Regions from separate parts of the Homo sapiens genome. Here region 2 is linked to region 1. The links come from fine-mapping of genetic effects on gene expression. Tissue or cell type: testis. Region 1 holds a variant in brackets; the other region holds the start of a gene. All regions are shown on one strand. Distances are between the middles of the regions.

The links. PIP is the estimated chance that this variant, and not a neighbour inherited with it, causes the effect.
Region 2: it holds the start of DAW1, and the variant in region 1 is the best candidate, but not a certain one, in a credible set for the expression of DAW1 in testis (GTEx, PIP 0.87).

The regions. Positions count from the first base shown.
Region 1 is chr2:227,913,065-227,923,311 of GRCh38, reverse strand. DAW1 (dynein assembly factor with WD repeats 1) reads right to left here. Exons shown (of 13, transcript NM_178821.3): 11 at 4,456-4,532; 12 at 1,751-1,913. Among named protein-coding and RNA genes, the nearest start is that of DAW1, 47 kb to the right of the region's middle. The variant T/C (reference allele first, on the strand shown) is at 5,853.
Region 2 is chr2:227,867,041-227,877,287 of GRCh38, reverse strand. It overlaps DAW1 (dynein assembly factor with WD repeats 1), which reads right to left and starts at 5,657. Exons shown (of 13, transcript NM_178821.3): 1 at 5,559-5,657. The coding sequence starts at 5,598. It also overlaps the pseudogene CRIPTOP2.

The sequences.
Region 1 (10,247 bases):
TTCTAAATCCAGCCTCAGGTAGGCCACTACAAAATGCCTGCAGTTTATCACACCAGGGTCCACTCGGAAAATAGAGTAGATTCTTTCAAATAAAGTGACTGCTCCATCGATGGCAAGAGAAAAGTGTCACCCCAATCTAATAAGCTCTGTTGTCTAGTGAGCCAATGTTAAGCACTTTGGTGCTTTGGGATACACTAAATTAATCAGTGGTATCTTCAAAGAGCTCAGGAATGTATGTGCTGGCACCAACGCAAGGCACAATAACAAAAATTCTTTTGCTAAACTCTCCAGGGTCTTCTGTGAAAACTGGTTGAGGGAAGAAGTACTGCAGAGCCAGCCTCATATGAGGCCATGTGGACTAGGAAAGGCTGGTCTTCCTTCTTTCTCACTCCCTGCAGGAGCGCCCTGTGCCCTCCATCATAGCCCCTCACCTCTTTTCTCATCAAGGAGAAGGATTTGATATTGTGTTCACAACAAAAATCTATGGCTTGTTTTCCCAGTGCTTTCAAAGTACCTACATCTTAGTTAACACTTGAAAATCATAAGCCCAAAGATTTTGAAGATCGTAAGCCCTGTGATTTCGGAAACTGTCCATCATTAAGTAGACTGGGGAGGCATTTTAGGTGGTAAGGGGAGATAATTCTCAGCACCCCTGAAGTTATCTGACAAGGAAACCACCTAATTGGCCAATATGTAAAGCCAGCCTTGGGCCTGTGGCATTTAACTTATTAGACTAGTAATTTTTAAATTTGCTCAACATGATGAGAATCACTGGTACTTAGGCAGATCTGGTCTTCTGTGCTCACTTAGGGTGCCCTACTCCACACTATTGTGGCACCCATTCCCTGCCAAGGCCTCCCCTCGAGGCACTCCACTAACATGATACCATCATCTTGTCATTTTTCTCCCCTTTCCACGATCTAAACTACCCTTTTCTTATGAAATGTTGCTAATATTATTAATTCACCATAAACTGTTAACGGTTGAAAAATGGTTAATACATGTTCTTTCCCCCCAGACATTAGTGCTTTAGCAGGGGAGAAAACAACTCTGCTCAAAGAATAAATCTCTAATGGGCTGTAAAGCCAACTGGGGAGAATTTTGATCCTGACTTGTTTTGGTTACTAACACTTACTGACATAAACTCAACTTTTTTCTTGAGACAGGGTCTTACTCTGTCACCCAGACTGGAGTGCAGTGGCCTGATCATAGCTCACTGAAGCCTCCAACTCCTTGGCTCAAGTGCTCCTCCAGCCTCAGCCTCCTGAGTAGCTGGGACTACAGGTGTACGCCACCATGCCCAGCTAATGCTCTATTTTTTTTGTAGAGACGGGGTCTCACTATGTTGCCCAGGCTGGCCTCAAGCATTTTTTCTGCCTCAGCCTCTCAAAGCACTGAGATTGTTGGCATGAGCCAATGCGCCTGGCTGACTAAATATTAACCATTCAATTGATAGAAAACACCTGGGGAAATTTAGTAACCTGTAAGGCAGGCTATCAAATTGTTACCTTATCTAGAGCAAATAAAATTCAAAGTTCACAAAGGCTTACTACAGTCAATGGCAGCGCTCACTCCTGTGGGTCCTCATAAAACTAAAATTAAATAATGAAAATATGAGGGCAGGCCAAGATGAGCTAGTGACTCCAGAAAAGAGGTAGGGAATGGGGATGAACTCCTGTTAGTATTCAGCTTGGGAACTCTAACAGCCAATCAAGAAAAAATGAGTCTATGGTGTTGATGTCTTCCATACCTGTAATGACTATGTTGCCTTTATAGTTGAAAGCACATGAAAAGATTTCATCAGTGTGCCCCTCAAGAACCTGGAGGCACTGGCCAGTCTGAGCATCCCAGATTCTAGCCGTTTTGTCAGAGCTGCCAGTTAGAAGATGGTTCCCTTGAGGGTTGAAAGAAATCTGCAAAAGAGAAAGAAAAATGATCACAGCTTTGTGTAATGGTTCCCAAAACATTTCTTATCAGCAAAAAAAAAAAAAAAAAAAAAAAAAAAAGGACATTACAGCACATGTCACCTTCCTAGTCTGGTATTTATTCTTGCATAGAACAATTTCTTCATAATGGAAAAAAATATTGCAGGGACTAGTACATGGAAACTAAAATCCAGAGAGAAAATGTAATTGCCTACTCCTCACATTTCTAAGAATAAAGACCAAAGCATCCTTATAATTTGAGTATTCCCCACCCAGCTTCTTTCCAAAGATGCACGATGCCCTTCTCTGTGCAAAGATGCAGGGCCCTGGTGTGGATGAACACACGAGTCAGGATCCTTCGTAGCCAAACCCTGGTGTCATCTTTGTGGTCAAAAGCACACAGATCCGGGCCAGGGGCGGTGGCTCAGGACCGTAATCCCAGCACTTTGGGAGGCCAAGGCAGGTGGATCACCTGAGGTCAGGAGTTCAAGACCGCCTGGCCAACATGGCGAAACCCCGTCGCTACTAAAAATACAAATTTAGCTTGGCATGGATGGTGGCACACACCTGTAATTCCAGCTACTGGGGAGGCTGAGGCAGGAGAATCGCTTAAACCTGGGAGGTGGAGGTTGCAGTGAGCTGAGATCATGCCACTGCTCTCCAGCCTGGGTAACAGAGCAAGACTCCATCTCAAAAAAAATAATAAAAAATAAAAATAAATAAATAAAAATTTTTTAAAAAGCACACAGATCCTTCTCTAATCTGTGCCATAGAATAAGTGAATGTAGAACCTACAAGAAAGGATGTTCTCATCTACTGCCACCCCAAGTATAGCATTTTCCATAAATACGCTTCTGTGCCTCCCGTGTGCCAGGTGTTGCCAACTGGCATCTGAGTGACCATCAAAGGAACCTGTTAGTCCTGCATCCCTTTGGGTGTCACACTTACATCCCCCTCTAATCACCAGAAGACAGAGATTCGGGCCATCTCCTCAATGACTGAAGGTTTGAGGAGGGCAGGGCCGTATCTGTTTTTATCACTCTGTTACCAGTGGCTGTGCAATGCCCAGCACAGTGGACACTCTCTAAAAGTGTTTGTTGAATGAGTGAATACTTTAGCTTTGCACCCCATAGAAATGCCCTTACCAGATGCCAATTCAATAAGTAATATGTTCATTTAAAAAGCATAAAATGTAATAAAATAGCACTAGAGAATTCTTTGTATTCACTCATTCATGAAAATAGATGTTTACTTATGGAGGAGACACACAGATGTCTCAATAGCTACCTAGCCAGACACTCAGAAACATGGGCCAGGCTTCCTCCTCATCCTGCCTCCCACACCCCACTTTTCCATCCCCTCCTGCCATCCATAAGCCTCCCAGCTTATGAAGAGGCCATAGTCTGCATGCCCTGGAGACCACCACTGACCAGCCAGAGGGCAATGATCACCAGCTGTAGGTGCAGAAGCAGAAAGGCCGAGAGTACAGCCTGGGGCGGAGTTCCAGGGTCTAGAAGGGGCCTTTAGAAACCTAAAATCATCAAGCTGATATTTTGCAAAGCAGGAACAAATCTGATCTCAGACAGGGAACCAAGGGATTGTGCTGAGCTGGGAGGTGAGAGCCACCAATCCTAGCCTACTCTACGAAGTTCTGATGACACATCTAAACTTCAGATCACTGACTGGGTGGGCCTGCTCCGTGAATGATCCTTTGGGGGAAGTTTATACAAAATCCTAAAACACAGCTTTGTAGTTTCAAAATGGATAATTTTATAATTTAATTTTAATTATAATTTTACATATTTCCAGGAACTACTTCCTCAATTGCATCTAACTTACAGAACACTTGATACTTGCTGCCCAGCATATTTTTCGCACAACATAAACTTATGTGTTTACCGGAACCAGGAAAAGCAGTTTACACGCTCCTTAAATTGCCATATTAAATATCTTCAGCTAACTAAATCTTTTGCTGACAGTGGAGGCGAATGCTGTTCCATACTTTTTAAGAGGTTTTAGAAATAATTTATTATGCTAAGTTTGAGGGCACAGTTAAAAATAAAGTCTTTAGGTAAGTGATTTCTAGAAAAAAACATGAGACAATAGAACAAATCTTAATCTTAGTACTTCAATTCCAATAGACCTATTTATACTGAGCATGCTTTTTTTTTTTTTTTCTTTTTTTTTTTTCTAGATAGGGTCTTGCTCTGTCACCCAGGCTGGAATGCAGTGGTGCAATCACATCTCACTGCAGCCTTGACCTCCTGGGCTCAAGCAATCCTCCTTCCTCAGCCTCCACAGTAGATGGGACTACAGGTGGGTAACACCATGCACAGCTGACTTTTTTTGTTTTTTGTAGAGATGAGGTATCCCTATGTTGCCCAGGCTGGTCTTGAACTCCTGGCCTCAAGCAATCTTCTCACCTTTTCCTCTCAAAGTGCTGGGATTATAGGTGTGAGGCACTGCACCTGGGCCCTGCTCTTTATTTTTTGAAAGTAAATAAACTCCTCCAAATGAGAAAGCGACTCACCTTTGAAATTTCACCTTCATGACCTTCCAGTTTGGCAATGCATTTTCTTGTGGCAGCACTGAAAATTCTTGCTGTTCCTTTTTGAGAGGGGTGGGGATATATATAAATTCATCTTAAATACAGAACTTTGGATAAAAGACTTTGCATTGTATAAATATATATCCCCCTGACACACGAGCTCTGTGCTAAGTTCATCTTCTTGCCTGTGTTGAGAGCCAGATACTTAATACTCTAAATGCCTGCTGGTCCCATTGCAGGAGAGGGTGAGAGGGAGCTCCTCTTTAGCCCTGAGCTTATTAGAAGAAATAATGTATTCCAAGGTAGAAAAGAGACCAAGAAGCAGGAATCCAGAAAGAAAAAACTTTAAGAGAAAAAGAGGAATTAGAGCAAGTTTCAAGAGGCAGGTGATGAAATAAGCAGCAAGACCAGCATGATACACTAGGTGTGAGTCTGAGTTTCTGCAAGGTACACAAGGAACATCCCAAGAAGGAGCATCAGCCGCTACTCAACAGGCAAAAAACAGGCTTCAAAAACCCTTTTCTACAGAAAAAGCTAATAGAATGCTTTTTTCCTGCTCTGCCTCCAGCGCCAAAAGCGCCAAGCATATATTAGCCATTCAATAAATAGCTGTAGTATGGATGGATGGATGGATGGATGGATGGATGGATGGATGGATGGATGGATGATGGATGGATGGATGGATGGATGGATGGACGGATGGATGGATGGATGGAGAAATGGATGGAATAAGTACTATGGACATTTCCTCATCAGTAAAGGATGAATAAGTTAAATAAATAAGTATTGAAAGTGAAAAACATGAGTAGTAAAATTTTTGTTAGAAGAAAACTTACAATTTGCCTTGCCAGATGAAGACTGCTTTTTTAAATCTCTGATTATAGCATTACATAGTAGTAAAATATAGCAAGGATACAAAATTGTAGGTACTTGATTTGCATCCAGAGAAAAGTAAAATATCATAATAAATTTTTTACTTGCCTTTCTGACAATGTCAACTTCATGAGGAGGTACAAAAAATGACAAAACCTGCCATTTTAGAATTAATGTGATTAAAAAATATATAACTTGAAATTCGGTTGGACATTTCAAAAGCCTTAAAGGGAAGTGACCAATTTGGTTTCAGAGTCAATAACATGAAAGAGAATGTCCTGCACAGATCTACACTCTAAGTTTTATAAAACTATATGTCTAAACTTCAGAAAACTCAGAAATAATATGGCCTGCAACACTGTAATTTTTTTACAGATAGGGATACAACTAAAGAAACAAAAAAATCGGCTGGGCGCAGTGGCTCATGCCTGTAATCCCAGCACTTTGGGAGGCCGAGGCGGGAGGATCACGAGGTCAGGAGATCGAGACCATCCTGGCTAACACGG[T/C]GAAACCCCGTCTCTACTAAAAATACAACAAATTAGCCGGGTGCGGTGGTGAGCACCTGTAGCCCCAGCTACTCGGGAGGCTGAGGCAGGAGAATGGCATGAACCCAGGAGGTGGAGCTTGCAGTGAGCTGAGATAGTGCCACTGCAGTCCCACCTGGGCGAAAGAGCAAGACTCCATCTAAAAAAAAAAAAAGAAACAAAAAAATCAGCCTTCAGAATAATTCCAATAAAGAAGAAAAAGTAGATAGATCGATCGATAGATGGATAGATACATAGATAGACAGACAGACAGACAGACAGACAGACAGACAGACAGATAGATAGATAGATAGATAGATAGATAGATACTGTCATGCATGGTCATGAGGGAGACGACACAGACATAGCTTAGTGTCACATGTTGTCAGAGAGATAACATAAACATAGTGTAGGGTCAAATGTGGTTATCAAGGAGATGATGCAGATACAGTGTAGTGTCATACATTGCTGACAAGGAGATTATACAGACATAGGTCAGAATTATGGAGCTGACACATACACAGTGTAGCATCATACATGATCATCAATAAGATGATCCAGATGTATAGTAGTATCTACACAGGAGTCAGAATGTTAACATAGACATGCTGTACATCATATGAGGATTTAAAGGAGATAACGCAGACATAGTATAGCCTGATGTGTGATCACTGTCAAGTTCAGGTAGATGAAAAAGACATAGTGTAGCATCACATATGATCATCAAGAAAATAATGGAGACTTCACAGGTCATATGTGGACTACAGAAGATGATACCCAAATAATATAGTATACATGGCCATCACGGATATGACATATATCCATGGTTATCATATGTAATTTTCTAGAAGATGATGCAAAATAGTAAAGCACTCTACAAGGTTATCAAGAAGATGACAGAGAAATAGTATAGCATCATACTTGGTTTTCAAGTAGATGACATGCACATTGACATTCATAATACGTGACTATCAAAGAGAATGACCTTGGTTTAAACATCATACATAGTTACCAAAGAGACAACGCAGTCATAACAGCATCATATGTACTTCTCAAGCAGATTTTGCACATATAGTGTGGCACCATATATAGTTGTCAAGGTGATAACACAGATATCTTGCAGCATCAAATACTGTCATCAGTGAGATTACTCATAATATCATGCATAAGTATTTTTAAATTGATGTAAACATAGTATAAATTAATGTACTGCTGTTAAAAACAATGCAGACATAGCATATAACCATAAGTGGTTGTCAAGGAGATGATTACATATTAGATATAGTGTAGCAGTACATTATTTTCAGGGTAATAGTCATACAGGGTCTCAATAAGACAATGAAGACATAATGTTGCATCATACATGGTTATCAGGGAAATCACAAAGATTTAAATGCCACAGATGTTTATTAGAAATATGTGACTGATAAAATAGCTATCATGAAAATATGCAGAAATAATGTATAATCATATGTAACTTTCAAGGTGATGGCACAAACATTGTAGCATTATAAATTGTCCTAAATGAGATGAACTACGGCATAATATCATAAGGAATTTTCAAGGACATGATATAGACAATAGTATAACATTGATGTGGTTATCAAGAAGAGGAAGTAGATACAGTGTAGCATTATATATGGCTATTAAGGATATGACACATAAGATAGCATCACATATGGCTGACAGAGACAATTATATTTTAGCACAATAAATGGGAGTAGTGAGATGAAACATAGTACATATATTCAGTGTTATTAAGAAGACCAAAACAGAGTCTAGTACCATAGGATTTACTACAGACAGGGTATGTTACAGCATCACACATCATTCTCAAGGAGATGATTATCAGAGGTTATTGTCAAGGAGGTGTCACAGAAATAGTTTAGCATCACACAGGGTCATTGCAGAAAAGACATAGTTATAGTATTAATCCCACTTGGTGTTCAAAGAGATAATGCAGACATCTTCCAGCATCAAACATGGTCATTAGGAAACTGACCCATAAAATAGCATACTTTATGGATATCAAGAAAAAGAGGCAAATATAGAATAGCATATACATAGTACTTAAGTTGATGACACACAAGTGATGACACATACATAGAGTAACACCATACATTACCATCAAAAAGATGACCCATAATAGATTGTCATTTGAGAATATTGTGGAAATAATAAAATCATAGTATAGCATCATATATCATCATCAAGTAAAGGATGAAGATATAGTTTACATCACTACACAACATGAATAAAAGCAGAGCATCATATATTTATCAAAGTGTGCTGCAGTAATACTATACCATAACACATACTTAATAAAATTATGATGCAGACAGAGTGTGGCACCATATGTTTTTGTCAAGGGTATGATGCAGACATTATGTAGCATCACTGTCATCAGGGAGTTTAGCCATAGTACAGCAGTATCATACATGGCTCTCAAGGAGGTGAAAAAGTCATAATGTACCAATATATGTAGTATGTTAAAAGATGATACAGACATAGTATAGCATGACATGTAGTTGTCATGGTGGCCTATAGCCTAGAATTATATATGATTATCAATGATGTAAACATATCATGTGATTAAAAGGATGACATATATTAGTACGACATTATCTAAGACAGATATCATATTGATTCCAACATAAATTTCAAGATGGTGATGAAAACATGTAGCATCATAGGTGGTTTTCAAGGTGATGACCCTGATAAGATGTAGCACAATACATGTTAATGCAGACAGTGAAGTAGACATCATGTATCCTCATAAGTGATCATCAGTGAGATGAGGCAGACAATACAATGCCAAATGTGGGCATAAGGGGGATGACATAATCTAGTGTAACGTCATATGTAATCTTCTTGGATATAAGGTGCACAGAGTGTAGCATCATACATGGTTTCCAAAGAGATGACACAGAGTGGCATCACATATGGATATCAATATGATGGCTCAGCGTAGAATCATAAGTAGTAATCACTATTTATGACAAGTAACATAGATCACTACTTATGACAAATAACATAGATCATCAATGGTTGTAAAGGAGATTTGGTATACATAGTATAGCATCATAGGTGGTTATCAAGGAGATGGTGCATATAGTATTATAGCACCAGCCACGGTTATCAAGTTTAAGATGCAGACATATTGTAGCATCATACATTATGGTCAGAGAAATGACCCAAAATATAAGATAATCCTCAGTACAGGATCATAGATGATGAAGACACAGTATAGCACCATATTTGTTTATCAAGGAGGTGGTGCAGACATAGTACAGCATCACTCACGGTTATCAAACAAATGAGGTAGACACAGATGTGATGTGAGGTCCTATGTGTTTATCAAAGAAATGCCACAGAAATATTGTTGCATTATAAAGGCCTTTAGGAACATGAATAGACCTAATGTAAAGAAAGAGAGAGAGAGAGAGAGAGAGATACAGATATATGACTCTCTCTCTCAATAGATTAGATAGATGATGATGATGATGATGATGAAGATAGATAGACAGACAGACAGACAGACAGACAGACAGACAGACAGATAGATAGATATGATGACTGTCTTCTGGCAGAAGGTGTAGACATGTTGTAATGTCATACATGATGATCAGGGAGATGACAGAGACACTGTAGCATCTCAGTGGCCATAAAGAGCATGACATATGCATAGTACAGGGATATATGTGGTGTACAAGGATTCTACAAAGATTGATTTTAGAACCATACACAGTGCCAAGGAGATGACACATGTATAGTATCACATGGTTATCAGTGGGATGATGTGCATGTAGAGTACCATCACATATGGGAATTTTAAAATGGCACATAGGATAGCATTATACATGAATATCAAGGAGACGACATGCATGAATGCAGCACTGTGGGTTTTCCTCATGGAAATAACCTATATTATGGCATCATAAATGTCACAAAGGAGCTGGTCCATATAAATATCAGGCATCATATGTGGTTATCAAGGAGAAAAGCATTATCTGTGATTTTCAACATGATGAAACACACAGTATAATGTCACATGTGGTTATCAAGGTGATGACTCAGAAATAGGGAGATATAACACATGGTTATAAAGGCGGTAACTTAGTATATCATCTATAGTTATTAAGGAAATGAAGTACACATAATATAACATCACATGTCGATATGAAGGATATTATGTAGTCATGTTTTAACACAATATGTGGTGATATCAAGACCCAAACAAAGGATAGTGTCACAAATCATCATCAAGAAGATGATCTTCTCATGCGAGGTTCTGAAAGATGAATCCTAAAATTGCATGTCACTTTGTTATCTAGGAGATGATTCAGATATAGTACAGACTCATACATGATTGCGATT
Region 2 (10,247 bases), 46 kb after region 1:
TCAGCTACTCGGGAGACAGAGGCAGAGGTTGCAGTAAGCCAAGATTGTGCCACTGTACTCCAGCCTGGCTGACAGAGCAAAACTATGTCTCAAAAATAAAAATAAATAAACAAAGATGCTGCCAGAAATACATGCTTTTCTTCAGTGACTGTTTCCCACAGTATCTTAATAATCTTGATTTTCCCTTGATTGTGCATTATTCAATAAATATAATTCCCAAAACACTTAGGTAAGAAGCCTCTATTCCTCAAATTTTTCAGTATATTAAAAGGGCATGCTTCAAATGATATTAGTATTCTTTACTTAGATTATATATTCAATCAACAGAAACCTTTAAAATGCTCAGAATGTTAACTAGTTTAGTTAATGTTGACTTAATTCCTTCTCCTGGTCTGAGAACTATGGACTTCACACAATAAATGAAATACAAAAATTGTCATAACTGAGTTAGCTGAAAAGCACATAGTCAACACCCACTCTCCCCAAAGCAAAGAGCTTATGAATTAATAAATGTGACCAAGATGAAAAGGAATGTCCCATGTTTGGTTAGCCATGTCACTGGCATGTACATTTAGCCTTTGGGAATGTAGGTAGGGAGAGGGATAATTCAGTAGATAGCAGCAAGACAATGCCCCTGACCTATACGTTATTCAAAAGAAAGTGGGAGGGCGAAAATTAGAGGATTAGGAGGCAAAACAAAACTGCTCTATATGCAGAAGGGATAAAGGTAGCACGGGAATGATTCAGTGGAATAATTTTTCCTATCTGATAATGCTATTATTGAAACACCCACCTGCTATTCAGTAGTATCTTGGAAACTTGCATATGATTTGGCTCACCAAAGACTGGAATTCAGAAATTAAATGTCAAGCATGCTAAGTAATATGACCTCATTATAAGATAAGCATTAAGGCAATAGTCGCAAACATGAGTCAAGAGAATTACGTGAGCCTAAGAATCCTAGGCTTGGCCGGGCACAGTGGCTCACGCCTGTCATCCCAGCACTTTGGGAGGCCAAGGCGGGTGGATCACGAGGTCAGGAGATCAAGACCATCCTGGCTAACACGGTGAAACCCCGTCTCTACTAAAAATACAAAAAAATTAATTAGCCTGGCGTACTGGCGGGCGCCTGTAGTCCCAGCTACTCAGGAGGCTGAGGCAGGAGAATGGCATGAACCCAGGAGGCGGAGCTTGCAGTGAGCCAAGATCATGCCACTGCACTACAGCCTGGGTGACAGAGCTAGACTCCATCTCAAAAAAAAAAAAAGAGAGAATCCTAGGCATTTAGAGCTGAAGTAGATCAAAGATCACTTATCTGGCCCTTTCACACTTCAGGAAGAGTTTGAGGCATTCTGCTTAACACACATCATCTCATTAAACTCACTTATTCAACAAAAACATTAATGTCATTTTATGCACCAGGCTCTCCTCTGGGTGCTAGAGATAAGGAGCAAACAAAATAGACAAAGTTCCTGCCTTCGTCAATCTTTTATTCTCGTGGGAAAGAATAAGCAAAATAAATGAGTGAAACAATGATGAGTTGGATTAAGATAGCCCCAAGGAGAAAAGACAAACCAGGGAAAGGGGCTGTGAAATATCATGGGAAGAAGATAGAAATGCTCAGAAAGGAGATATCTAAGTCTTCACTTTACACAATTTTGAGGAAAGACTTTAAAAATATGGGGCACTAGTGATACAAATGTCCATGGGTAGATTATTCGAGGCAGAAAGAACACCAACTGCAGACCCTGGGTGGGGACACCTCTGCCCCATTCAAGGAACACCAAGGAGAGGAGTGTTGCTGGAGGGAAAAGTCGAAAGTGGTGAGGTCAGGGAAGCAACAGGGGGTGAGATTTTGCAGGGCCTTGGGGATCATGGTCCTTTTACTTTAAACGAGCTGAGAAGTCATTGGAGGGCTGGAGCAGAAGAGTGACATGGTCATATTTATGTTCTAACAGAGCCATCCCATTGCCATATAGACTGAAGAGGGGCAAGGGTGGAAGGAAGCTTTCAAGCTAAAAAGAATGGTAGTGGTCAGGTAGTAGAAATTGTTGGATTCTGCATATATTTTGGAGGCAGGACTAGCAGGATTTGTTAGTGGATGTGGAGATGAGAGAGAGACAAGGAAGAGTCCAAAATGTTTGGCATGAGTAAGTGGAGAAATGGAGCTGCAATTTGCTGAGATGGGGAAGACCATGGGAGACCCCCACATGAGATGTACGGTGGACATTCAAATGAATGTGTCGGGTGGGCACTCAGGTACTCAGGACTATGCGGGATGGTTTGTTTTTTGTTTTTCTGTTTGTTTGTTTGTTTGTTTGTTTTGAGACAGAGTCTTGCTCTGGCACCCAGGCTGGAGTGCATTGGTGTGATCTTGGCTCACTGCAACCTCCACCTCCCAGATTCAAGCGATTCTCCTGCCTCAGCCTCCTGAGTAGCTGGGATTACAGACCCGCACCACCACACCTGGCTAATTGTTTTGTATTTTTAGTAGAGACGGGGTTTCACCATGTTGGGCAGGCTGGTCTCGAACTCCTGACCTCAGTTCAGGATAGTTTTTAAGCCTTGAGAATGGATGAGATTGCATAGTGTATGAGTGTAGATAGAAAGGAGAAATCCAAGGTTGGGGCTCTGGGGCACTCCAACATTAAATAATCAAAAAGAAGAAGAGGAACCAACAAGATAGACACAGAAGAAGTGACGTGAGACAGGAAGGAAAATAGAATATGTGTCCTGGAAGCCAAAGAAAAGCAGAGTGGTTGAATGCTGCTGTCAGGTCAAGGCAGGCAAGGACTGTGGCTTGGCCAGTAGATTAGCAATGTGAATGTCATTGGAGATCTTAAAGTGGGCAGTTTCAGTGGGGCAATCCGCGTGAAAACATGATAGGAAGGGAGGACAGCACTTGGGGAGAGTATTCTTCCAAAAATTTTCTCTACTCTGAAGAGAAAGAATCAAATAAGATAAGAAGCTGGAAGGGTCTAGTAGACCTGTGAAGTGGTGCTGTTGTCACCATGTACCCATGCTTTGATAGAATAAAACAAATTGCCCAAGTTTTTTTATTATTGTATATGGTGAGAAGCCGTTATTCTGAACCCAGAGCTCATATTCTTAACCTACACTCCACAACAAAGAGATGAAAGCAAGAGCTTCATTTATTGGTACATCTATGGGAACCAGCACAGGCCTATGGGCAAAAAGAGCCAAAAGAAAATTATGGAATACTTAAAGGAAACAGACTATTAGTCTTAATTTTAAATTTTCTATATACTATCTACCTATGCCTAATTTAAATTTCGTAGATACTCTCAGCCTGATGCAGTGGCTCACATCTGTAATCCCAGCACTTTGGGAGTCCAAGACAGGTGGATCACTTGAGGTGAGGAATTCAAGACCAGCCTGGCCAACATGGTGAAACCCCGTCTCTGCTAAAAATACAAAAATTAGCTGGGCTTGGTAGTGCACACCTGTGATTCCAGCTACCTGGGAGGCTAAGGGATGAGAATCATTTGAATCCAAGAGGTGGAGTTGGATTGCACCACTGCACTCCAACCTGGGTGACAGAGCAAGACTCTGTCTCAAAAATTAAATTAATTAATTAATTACATAAAATAAATTTATCTAGATACTGTCATATATATAGCTTTCTCATATTATTTTAACTGGAATTCTATGAAGGAGAAAATGCATGTCTTTTCTACAAATGTCAACTTCCCATTGGAGAAAGTAGCTGTCCAGGATCGGTCTTCCAGGGAGGCAGAAGCAGCATCCCTTAAGATTTTCAGTGTTTATTTTCAGTAATTTCCATACCTGACCTCTCATCAAACACATCCATTTATCCATACATTCATTCAACAAACATTCCTGATCTTCTGTGTCACCAAATCTCTTCTAGAAGCTGAGGGTGCTACAATGATCAAACCACACTAAGATCTTAGTTCTCACGAAGTTTACATTAAATGGGAAAGGGGCAGACATTTGAAACAAAACAAGTAGAGTTTTGGATGATGACAAATATAATTTTTAAGCACTTTATGGCATAGAGTAAAATCAGTGCAGGCTACTTTGAATAGGTAGGAAAGTCTCTTCAGGTGGTTGACATTGATTGAAACTGAATGAAGAAAAGGAAGCAGCTTTTCCTAGCTCTAGGGAAAGCTGGGTCCAAAAAACGAATGAGTGAAAGGCCCTCTCTTAAGTCTTAGAAGAACAAGCTAAAGAAGTCAGAAGTATAGTGAGGGTAGACAAGTGAAGTTTTAGAAGTCAGCAGCACAGAATGAGCCAAATCCCACAGGTTGCGGATCGTATTCTAAGCATGATAGGAAGCTATTGGAGATCTTGAATTCAGATCCCACTGGCTCCTAGTGGCAGATGGATTGTAGGAGATGAGGGTGAAAACCAGGAATCCAGTTGAAAAGCCACTGGAGTGGCTCAGCCAAAGGGAATGGTGGCTGGAATGGAGGGTTGGACTAGGTTGGCAGCTGGAAGGGATGTTAGACCAAGAAATCTGTGCTATGGAAAGAGGGATAATCTGATGGATTCACAGAATATTTTGGACTTAGAGCTGGCAGAATGATAACGGAATGCCGGGGGTTGGGGGGGTGGGGGAGGCAGTGAATGATCACAGGAGAGAAACAAAAAGTGACCACCTAGGTTTCTGGCAAAAAACAGGCTGGGTGATGATGCCTTCTACTGGCAGGGCACAGTTTGAGGAAGCAGCAGGATTGGGATGGGACTGGAAAAAAGAAATCATGAGATCTCTATGCGATACCTCATCGGCGATGTTGACCAAGCAGTTGGATGTGTTGCAGGGAAAAGTGAGATATTCAACCTGAAATTCAAGTCCCACCCCTCATAAAGCTATTCTTAACAAAACCGGTCCAAAGTATCTTACCCTCCTTTGAAATCTTTATGACACTTCCTATCCAAACTTCATTGGGCAAGTGTATTTGGTTATCTTCTGCCTTGTGGTATGTTTTGCAGATTTTTTTCTTTTTTTTCTTTTTTTTTTTTTTTTTGCAGATGTTTCTAATTCAGAAGACGAGTTCTGAATTAGAACCCAAGAATTGCACTCCTATTTCTGTCCCTAAGAAGCTGGGTGATCAATGGGTGTCACTTATTCTTTAAAGGTGACCATGTCCTCACCTAAAATTAGAGTTAGGCAAGGATTAGGTAATTAATGTATTGCTTATGTTACTAAGTAATAGTTAAGTAATTTATTTCATAATTACTTCACTCATTGAAATCAAGCACTATGAACTTCTTTAAAGGTCCATAGCAGAGAGCACAAAGCGTGTACGCAGTAGGCACTCAATAAATGCAGACAGACTGACATGCACAGTCAAGCTAAACTCTTTAAATTCCTAAAAGAGTAATTGTTAATGTTTTGAGGAAGAGTCCAGCATCTGAAGGAATGAGGGGCACAGGTTGGGAAGTGCCCGACTTCCTGCCCCACCTGGGGACCCCGCCGCCTTTCAGTGGCTGCGCCCTCCTCCGCCCCAAACCCTCCCAGTCTGGGAGCCCAGGGTCCCACGTGGGGATGACGGGGCCGGGCTGGTGCGTACCTGGCGGGTAATACCGGAGCAGGAGGCTCTTGAGCTTCATTTTCTTGCTCTCTTATCCCCGGCCGATGGGCTTCGTAGCCTTGGAAACGGCTAAACAGCAGCGGGACGCGGGTGCGCATGCGCAGGTTGCACCGCGCGGTCCTGGGGCGCAGAGCTGGGAGGTCTGGCTCCGCGGGCGGTTGGTGGCGACCCGGGGCTCCGGCGCGCGGGGGGCGAGTGTTCTGGAGGTGTCTAGAGTGAAAGAGGTGAGGGCACCTCGTGTCCTCACTAAGGGCGACCTCAGAGGAGCTAGGCATGGCCGGGAACCGACGGCCTAGGCCACAGCCTGGGCTGCATGCACTTTTTTAGCACACTGCGTTTCCCAAAAGGAAGGCTGGGAGGAAAAGCCCATCGCTAATTACTACTCTAGGGCCCCAGCCCGTGCCCTGTCCTTGTCCTCCCAAAAGAAAAATGACCTCAACTTAATATTTTGCATTTCCTGACTCTGTGCCCTACATTGCTTTAAACGGTGTATGCACACATACTCATACAATCCTAACAAGGTGTGAGTTATGCACCACTTCTTAAGGATGAAGTAACTCAGAATTAGAGAAAGTGGAGAACTACCAGAGGTCGCAGCCTAAATGGATAGGCGGGAATGGAAGGCAGGTGCGTCGGAACCTACACCAGAAAGCCTACACCTGTGCTCTCAACCTGGGCTTAAAACTCTCCAGGCCTTCATGCGGCTTGTCCAATTTCTTGCCAGCATCGTTGTTTGCCTGCCACGTTTCCATGAGAAAGCCTGCGGAGAGACAGAGTCAGCCAACCAGCTTGTCAATTTCCTTTAAGGAATTTGGCCTCAACTGGAATTTCTCAAACTTGAGTCATTCCTGTGTTATCTGCGCAACTATGAGCCATATCTCTCCTTACCTCTTCCAGAGATCCATACCTAAGTTTTAAGTTCTTAAAATGTCTCTAGATTGACTCACTTATTTTACTTCACTTAGTAAAATGTAATCTTAAAAATTACCTTTACTTTTACAGTTACTGGCTGTTTACTGAAAATTATATGAAATTTAATTCCATCTGTGAAGTTTTTATTTCTAAATTTAAAATTATATGAAATTTTCAGTAAACAGCCAGTAACTGTAAAAGTAAAGGCAATTTTTTAAAGGCGTTGAATTGCTTGTTAAAGGCTGAGCCATCGGGAACTTGTGCGTCCATCTCAGGGAGACCTGGCCTTCAGAGATGACAGCATTCAGCCCCAGGAGGAGCCTGCAATTCGTCCTCGGTCTTCCCAGCTTGTGCCCCCCATGGGGATACAGGACAGTAAGGAGCCAAACAGAACCTGCTGCCTGAATGGGGGAACCTGCATGCTGGGGTCCTTTTGTGCCTGCCTCCCCTCCTTCTATGGATGGAACTGTGAGCACGGTGTACGCAAAGAGAATTGTGGGTCTGTGCCCCATGACACCCGGCTGCCCAAGAAGTGTTCCATGTGTAAATGCTGGCACGGGCAGCTCCGCTGCTTTCCTCAGGCATTTCTACCTGGCTGTGATGGCCTTGTGATGGATGAGCACCTCATGGCTCCCAGGACTCCAGAACTACCACCGTCTGCATGCACCACTTTTATATGCTAGCTGGCATCTGCCTTTCTATACAAAGTTACTATTAATTGACATTGACCTATTTCCAGAAATATGATTTTAGATATCATTCAAATTTCATGACCAGTAAAGGCTGCTGCTATAATGTCCTAACTGAAAGATGATCATTTGTTAGTTGCCTTAAAATAATGAATACATTTCCAAAATGGTCTCTAACATTTCCTTGTAGTACCAAATACTTCTTACCTCTTTGCCCTGCCCTCCCCACAAAAACTACTTCTTTTTTCAAAAGAAAGTCAGCCATATCTCCATTGTGCCTAAGTCATGTTTCTTGATACATGTAATTCTACCAAGGTCTTCTTAAAAGTTCTTTTAAACAATTGAATATTATCTTCAGATTATTAAAGACCAATCCTAATGTGGACCTTAGGATACAGTTTTGAGTAGAGTTGATAAAAATCAATTAAAATAGTCTCTTTAAATGGAAAGAAAGCCTCTTTAAGGGGAGGAAACAGAGGGCTGAAGGAATGGAAGTTCATCTGCATGTATGCAGGGAGACTGGGTAGGAAAGAGGAAGCAAATGGGAGAGAGAGGTTGGAAAACATAAAATGGGTTACTTGATGGTGATTAGGTGGGTGTAGAGAAGAAAGTTAAAAGGCTAAATGGAAGGGTAAGTTTCCGTCATCTATAGAAAGCTATATGAGACAAGGACTCCAATTTTTTTCCCAAAGGTGTTGTAAAAAGAATGAAGTCTCCTTATAAAAAAAAAATTATACCTCAATGTCCCCAACAAGACTGCTTAATAAATTATGTTTCCTCCAAGCTATGCAATTCTTTTAACTGTTGTAGAAGAGAAAATGTTCACAATATATTTAGTTGTAAACCAAATGATAAAACTACATATTGTAAAGCCAACTTTTAAAATACATTGTATATATGCGTATGCACAGTAAAAATGGAAAATATATTGACCTAAAGGCATTGAATTACTATATACTACTATATATTACTATATTACTATATACTAATTACTATATACTGCCAAAGACTCTGAACCCAAAACCATCCCTTTCTTTGTAAACAAAGGAAGGAAGAAAGGAAAGAAAGAGGGAGGGAGGGAGGGAGGAAGGGAAGGAAGGAAATTAGCAACTGTTTGAGATTGTTAAGACAGGCTACAAGACGGAATAGCACTCAACTGAGCCTTCCTACTTGATGTGTTCAGAAGATTGAAAAGATTGTTGAGATGGCAAAGCCTTTGCTACTAAGTGACACAATTTAACCCAATATAAATGTGCAAAAAAAAAATCATCTTTTTCTCACCAGTAGTAAGCATCCCATACTTGGAAAACAGGGAACCGTATGAAATCCAAGCTCTCTCCCAGCTCAAACTTTCTCCTAGCCACTAAGACACTCTGGAAGGACTTATGGAGGGAGGGGCAAAGAGTTTGCTCTATAGAAATGAGAAAGTCTTTGGTAGATTTTGGTCACCTATGTTATTGCTTGTGCTCATGCCATTTAAAATGTGATCTTTGGGTGGGGCACCCATTTAAAACGTGATCTTTGGGTGGGGCACGGTGGCTCTTACCTATAATCCCAACACTTTGGGAGGCCAAGTTAGGAGGATTGCTTGAACCCAGGAGTTCAAGACCAGCCTAGGCAACAAGGCAAGATCCGGTCTCTACAAAAAAATTAATTAGCTGGGTGTGGTACATGCCCCTATTGTCCCAGCTACTCAGGAGGCTGAGGTGAAAGGATCACTTGAGTCAGGGAGGACATCACCAATAGTGGGACAAACTGACATATATTACCTGGTATTACGATGCACTGAAGAGAACACAGCAAAGCCGGGTGCAGTGGCTCATGCCTGTAATCCCAGCACTTTGGGAGGCCAAGGTGGGCAGATCATAAGGTCAGGAGATCGAGACCATCCTGGCCAACATGGTGAAACCGCATCTCTACTAAAAATACAAAAATTAGCTGGGCGTGGTGGAACGTGCCTGTAATCTCAGCTACTCTGGAGGCTGAGGCAGGAGAATTGCTTGTACCAGGGAGTCGGAGGTTGCAGTGGGCCGAGATCGTGCCACTGCACTGCAGCCTGGCAACAGAGCAAGACTCTGTTAAAAAAAAAAACAAAAAACAATAAACAAAAAAAAACAGCAATTCTCTGGAATTCCTGCCCAAAATGAATTACTTGACTCAAATCATAAGGAAACATCGGAGCAAACCAAACTGAGGAAATTGTATAAAATAACTGTTGACAGTCAAGGAAAGAAAACTCTAAAGAAATACTTGAGATTAAATAAATCTAAAAAGGACAACTAAATGCACTGAGTGATGATAGATCCTGAACCAGAATAATAATTACTTACAAAGGGCATCGTTGAGACAATGGATGAACTCTGTATATAGGGATTGTGGTTTAGATAATAGTATTTTATCAGTGTTAAGTTTCTTGACTTTGATCATTGTACTGGTTATGTAAGAGAATGTCCTTGTTCTTAGGAAAAGTATACTGATTTATTTCAAAATAAAAGGGCATGCTGGCACCCTGATCTCAGACTTCCAGCCTCCAGAACTGTGAGGAAGAAGTTTCTATTGTTTGTGAGCCACCCAGTCAACGGTACTTGTTATGGAAGCCTGAACTAAGACATTCCCACCAGGACCTGCCTTGAACAACCAGAAACTAAATAATGAGTAGCAGTAATTTTAATCTCCTAAACCAATCCAGGCTAATACAGTGAAGTCACTCTAGGCTTCAGTTCTCCAAGCATGGTTCCCGGACCAGCAGGGTCAGTATCACTTAGGAATTCATCAGCAATGTACATTTTCGCCTCCCCCGAGTCCCGACCTACTGAATCAGAAACACTGATGGTGAAGTCCAACAACCCATGTTTAAATGTGCTTTCCTGGTGATTCTAGTGAATGATGAAGCTTGAGAGCCACTGTGCTAGCTTAATAGGTTACACTGGCTTGGACAGAACGAAGTGAGTGAAATTGGGCTTCATCTCCAATGATCAGGTCTTTCTGTGTATTCCAGGCAGTCTTCCCTGATTGTCAGGAACAGTAAATTGATTGTTCAACCACATCCTCGAATGTAAATGAGAAC